2 separate regions of the Homo sapiens genome follow, and region 2 is linked to region 1. The links come from fine-mapping of genetic effects on gene expression. Tissue or cell type: cerebellum. Region 1 holds a variant in brackets; the other region holds the start of a gene. All regions are shown on one strand. Distances are from middle to middle.

The links. PIP is the estimated chance that this variant, and not a neighbour inherited with it, causes the effect. A credible set is the group of variants that fine-mapping cannot tell apart.
Region 2: MYO5A starts here. The variant in region 1 is the best candidate, but not a certain one, in a credible set for the expression of MYO5A in cerebellum (GTEx, PIP 0.58).

What each region holds. Positions count from the first base shown.
Region 1 is chr15:52,347,082-52,349,926 of GRCh38, reverse strand. MYO5A (myosin VA) reads left to right here. Exons shown (of 42, transcript NM_001382347.1): 29 at 1,101-1,109. Among named protein-coding and RNA genes, the nearest start is that of MYO5C, 53 kb to the right of the region's middle. The variant G/A (reference allele first, on the strand shown) is at 1,474.
Region 2 is chr15:52,527,559-52,530,218 of GRCh38, reverse strand. It overlaps MYO5A (myosin VA), which reads left to right and starts at 1,339. Exons shown (of 42, transcript NM_001382347.1): 1 at 1,339-1,439. The coding sequence starts at 1,413. RefSeq lists a silencer at 810-1,689.

The DNA of each region.
Region 1 (2,845 bases):
ATCATAATCATAAACCCCTTAAGCCAGAAATGAGAAGAACCCCCATTTTGGCTTGCCGTATAGGTTGCACCTTACCCCAGGGCTGTCACAGTTGGTTCCCTTGGCTACCACTGTGGCTGGGCCTCAAGAAACAAGGCTTGCAATCTAGCTTGAGCAGAGTCCAAAATCAAGATTCCTTTCTCTAGTTTTCTTGAGACAAATTAGTATTCTTTCTTAAAAAAATGTTAATTGACAAATAATAATTGTATATATTTATGGGGTTGCAATGTGGTAATCTCACAAGAAATTTTAGTAAAAATCAAGAGAAAGGAAAAGAAAAATGAAGCAAAGGACATAAAAACAGTCCAGCTAACAGAGCACATAGTTCTGCTATCACACATTCTCCCTTGCCCGGCTCACGTACCCCATGTGACAGCTGCTCTCCTGACCCTAATGGGCTGACCCGGTCCAACTGAGGTACCTAAGTTCCTCAGCTCCCAGCCTAAACATGGTAGCACTCGTGTCCCATCCTAGGAGAAATGCCCTTGACACTAATTAAGATCTTCCAGACTCCCCAGGGCTGTTTGTCTCACTCAGTTTCTAGTCTGAGAGACACATCATGTCACCACTCCATTGCAGGGCAGTGGTGAGCAACACCCTGTGAGCTAGGGAATGATCCAGCCCAGGCAGGTCTTGTGTATTGGCTCCACCTCTAGAGTATTCTGGGAATCTTCCCTTGGACAAACGACTTCTGTGAGAGACATAACTTTAACTCCACAGACCTACGATAAGAATTTCACCCACAAATAACAGGAGGGTCATTCTCTCACATACTCAAAGATATTTTATAACCAGAAAAATCAAAACAATTTTAAAAGAATTTCAAGCATTTGTTCCTGGAAATAGAAGTTGTCAACATATAAATATATATTAGTCTCTGTTTTATGACAGTTCCAGGAATGTTAATGTATATATAGAGTTAATTTTAGAGAAACAACTCATGGCTGTTTTTAAATTAGCTTTTATCTGTTATAATAGGAACTCATTGATGAAATTTATTTATGGAACTAAGGGTTTATTGTTTTCTCTGTTTTTTGTGCTTGCTGACTTGTGATTCTCAGGATGACAAGGTAATTATACCTTTTTTTTTTTTTAGTAAATACTTCTATTTAATCCTAACTTTAGTTTACAAGTATCCCCCAATAAAGGCAATTGATGCTTTCTGACCAAGTCTATTTTGATATTTTGAATTTGTAAGTGAATTTCCGATTTGACTCCTTCTGATTTGGGAAGTCAGTAGGGAAACAGTGGTTATAGTAGGCTCCAGTCTAGATTATAGAGGGGACTCCATGACTTCTAATTCATAGGCAGCTCTATGACTCACTGCCGTAGTTCTGGTAGGCTGTCCACAGGCTGGGGAGGGAAGCCCTTAACTTGGAGTACACTCAAAAGCACAGGCTCTCCTGAGCTCTCATATCTACCAGTGGCGGGCTT[G/A]TTGGTTAAGGGTGAAGGGGAGCCTGAGGAGCTGAGCACACTGTTCTTTGCTGCCATTTTCATCTCCCTGAGTGTAGAGTCCACAGCTAGAATGAAATGTGGCTCGTTGACGAGGTTGCAAAGTCAAATTTCTCTACCATATCCCTGTTTCTCTATGTACTGAGTGACAGATATTGCTGGAATTTTCCTATATAGCACAACCCTTTTAGAACTTCTGGTCACAGGCTTAAGAGAGACAAAGTTTGAGCAGTGAATCAGGAACTTCCTGAATGCTGGTGGCCCAAATCTGATCCCATTCCCCAAGTGCCACTTTTTAGCTAAGGTAGTCAGAATGAGGGAAGAACTGGTGACTTACCACCCAGGAGAGAAGCATACTAAGAAGCCTTTCTTCTCTTGGATTAGTTAATTTGATCAAGTTACCTCATTTGCTAAAAGTTCACAACCATACCATGTAAGTCCTGAGATACCAGAGCACACAGATAGCATTATTTGATGTAAACACTTGGGTCTTTGAAAGTTATTACTTATGGGTTTTAAAAATCTGAGTATGGCCCTTTATAAAACAGAAAGATTTTATTCCTTTCAGAGAAAGAGAAAAAAGAACCTCTTTGTAAAACAGGTACTAAAATATTTACAAAACATAGCTAAAAAAAATACTCTGTGGTTTTAATGGGAAAGATTTTTAAAATTCAATAAAATGTAAACTATTTATTAGTATATTTCATGAGATTATAGTTGGTCTTCTCAGAGGAAGCATTTATAAACTTACAAAAGGATAGCATTAAGAGAAAAGTGGTATTTTTTTTAAGGATTTTTAAAATACACATTGAAATTCAGAAACAAGCATTTGTAAGTCTCTGATTGGCATTAAAGTTATCTTGGAACTTGTCTTTAAGATCATGGTATTTGAAGTGTATTTTATTAAGTCTGTTTCATTGCAAGGCCTGAGCTTAGATCATGTTTACTAAAGAATCAGACATATACTATTTAGACAAATATGTGGTCCAAAAGCTTTTGAGTTGAATTTTATGTGGAAATGTTTCCATTTAGACAAAGCCACTGGGTTCTGAAGTATATTGTTTTTTAGAGGCTACACAGCAGGGTTTCTTTTTTTGCTTTAAGTTTTGGGATACATGTACTGAATATACAGGTTTGTTACATAGTTCCATGTGTGGAACTATGTTCCATTGTGGTTTGCCAGCAGTGATTCTTATCTCTTACTCTTGTCTAGAAAGATAGAGTAGCTGAATAGGAGAAGATTTTGAAATTACATTGCTTGTCAGACAGATTTGACTAAACGGAGAAAATTAAAAAGAAAATTAAAATGTTGGAAAAAAGTTATTCTTATATAAAATAATTAATAATTCTGACC
Region 2 (2,660 bases), 180 kb before region 1:
TCGTGATAGAAATGGTCTACCAGATTACCATGACAGGCACTGGGGACCAGTTGTAGTTCAAAGAAACGAGAGATGAGGGCACTACAAAGAGGCAGGGATTAAACAAACAAAAACAGCAACAACAACAACGACAACAATAAAGAATGAAGATTATTCAACCAGAAACGACAATGAGGGTGGGGAGAAGATAGAGGATGAAGACAGCGCAGGGTTGGGAGTAGAAAGACCACATTCTTGTGCTGGATGTTCAAGGATCACCGTGAGGAGAGTGAGGGCGGCTTTGCCCTTTTGATGTTGAGTTAAACTGTAATACAGATTTTCCATGTAAGTACTCCGTCATTTTCAGGTGGCAACCGGATAAACTTCAGGTGCCACCATGGAGCCGACAATCACCAGCAGCGAACAGGACGGGAAGAAGGCTGGGACAGAAGGGTAGTTGCATCTCCGCAAACGCACAGGTCTAGGAAAGAGGCACCTGGGCTGTCCCCGGGCTATCTCGTTTCAAAGTCACTTAAGTTTCTGTAGCTTAGAAGCGGCCCTTGCCCTCTGGTATCGGGAGACGACTTTGCTGCAGACATCGAGGTGCTCGGAATGACCTTGGTGATCAACCTTAACCTGAAATTCCCGGTCCTGCATTGCCCATCTCCCGGGTCACTGCTGCTGACAAGGCTCTTCTACAGTCCTGGGTTATTCTACAGTCTTTCAAGAGGGCTTCCCCTAAATCCTCTCCCTAGGAATGCTTGGAAGGACGGGAGGAGCAGCCTGGAGGCTCCCATCGTTTATTCGGACACAGTAACAGCCCGTGCCATGGCTGCGCTACCGCGGGAGCTAGGCTCCGCAGCAGAGGGCCCCGGGCTCGCTTCGGGGTGGGGGCGCCCGGGGTGTGCCGCGCCCTCGGGGCTCACGTCCCGGGCGGGTTTCCGGGCCTCGGCAGGGCGCGAGGCGGCGGCGGGGCCGGCTGGCAGGCTGATGATGATGATGCTCTGTGCTCGTAGCCGATGGGAGGCAGCGTGAGCCCGAGAGAGCCCAGAGCAGCCGCGGTGGCAGCGCTGGAGCGCAGCCTCCTCCCGCTCCCATAATGCACAGGGCGGCGGCGGTGGCGGCGGCGGCAGCGGAGGCAGCATCGCGGGCCGCCGAAGTGGCTGCGGCGGCGGCGGCGACCCCTAGGACCCCGGGCAGGTGGAGCGCTCGCGGCTGCTCGCGGCGAGCCCGGGAGTGATGGCGAGGCCCCTGCGGGCGGCCAGCGCCTGAGGCGCCCCGCCCCGCCCCGCCCCGCGCGGCCCTCCCCGCCCGGCCCTGCCCTGCCCTGCTCCCTGCCGGCGGCTGCGGGCGCTTCCTAGTCCGCTCGGGCGGCCGCCCAGGCGAGGTGCGGCCTCCGCACAGGCGGGGGGCGTAGGCGCGCGGGGCCCGCCATGGCTGCGTCGGAGCTCTACACAAAGGTAAGGCACCCCGCGGCCGGCGTCGAGGACTGGGGCTGTGCGGCCCTCGCCGCCAGCTGTCAGGCTGGGGAGGGGGCGGGAGCGCCGGGCCCAGGCGAGCCCCACCAGCGCCATCCCCTTCAGCGCCTCAGAACCCTCGGCCCTACCAGCCGGTCGCCCGCTGCGGCACCTTCCTCTTTCGGGCGAGATGGTGAAGGCGGCGGAAGGTGGCCCGCCTCGGGGGTCTCCCAGGCCCCTGCCGCGCTGCTCGAGCTGGGGGCAGAGCGGGCTTCGGAGTGGAAAGGGGGCCCATGTGGATTTAGCAGGGCGGGCGTGCCTCCCCTCCTGCTTGGCTTTGGAAAATTCCCGGCGGGTGGGAGATGCTTGCTCCAGTAGATCGGATGGGTTCTCTCGTGGGGACACGCGCTTAAAATAACGTCTTGTGTTGGTATGCAGTGCCGCTTCTACCGCCAGCTAGCCTTTCTGTGAGGTTATTTTGAATCCTGCAAACGGTGGCCGTATCACCTTTAGCTCCCCAGTTTAGCTGCGCTGGGGGTGGCGAGCCCCGGGGAAAGATGCTGCCGGATGAACGCGAGCTGATTCACCGGCTGGGAGGGTCGGTACTCATTTATCGCTGGGAGTTTGCAACCTGCGTGTAATCCCGCAGAGCCTTGTTAGGCTCCATGTCTTTACCATCCTCTGGGGCAAGCCTTTCCCTTCTGGGTTTGGTTTAAGGGAAGTGGCAGTCTTTTCTTAGACTGACATCAATATACTCAGGGTCTGGCGATCTCTGAATGACATATTATGGAGAACTGTCACTTGAGTGCTGCGCAGATTTGTGATGACCTTTGTGAATATATGTAATCATGGCATTTTATACTGTACACTCATGTGTAGGTAGATATTTTGCCAGATATTGATTACTTCTACATGCAGTTAATAGAGTTGCCTTTTCACATTAGCTTTTGCAACAGAACTTTCATTTAGGGTCCTGTAATCACTGGAATCATTGTTTCCAAATGTCACTGAAGTCCAGGGCCCAAGTTGCAGTGTGTTTTGTAGAGGAAAGAAGACTGGGCATCAAGAGACCTGGATTCAAGCCGGGACTTACTAACTGTGACCTTGGACAAGTCACTTAACATCTCTGGTTCGATTTCCTAATGAGTAAATGCAGTTAATTATACTTGCCTTGCATCCCTTACAAGCTGTTGTGAGAATCAAACTTAATAATCGTTGTGAAAG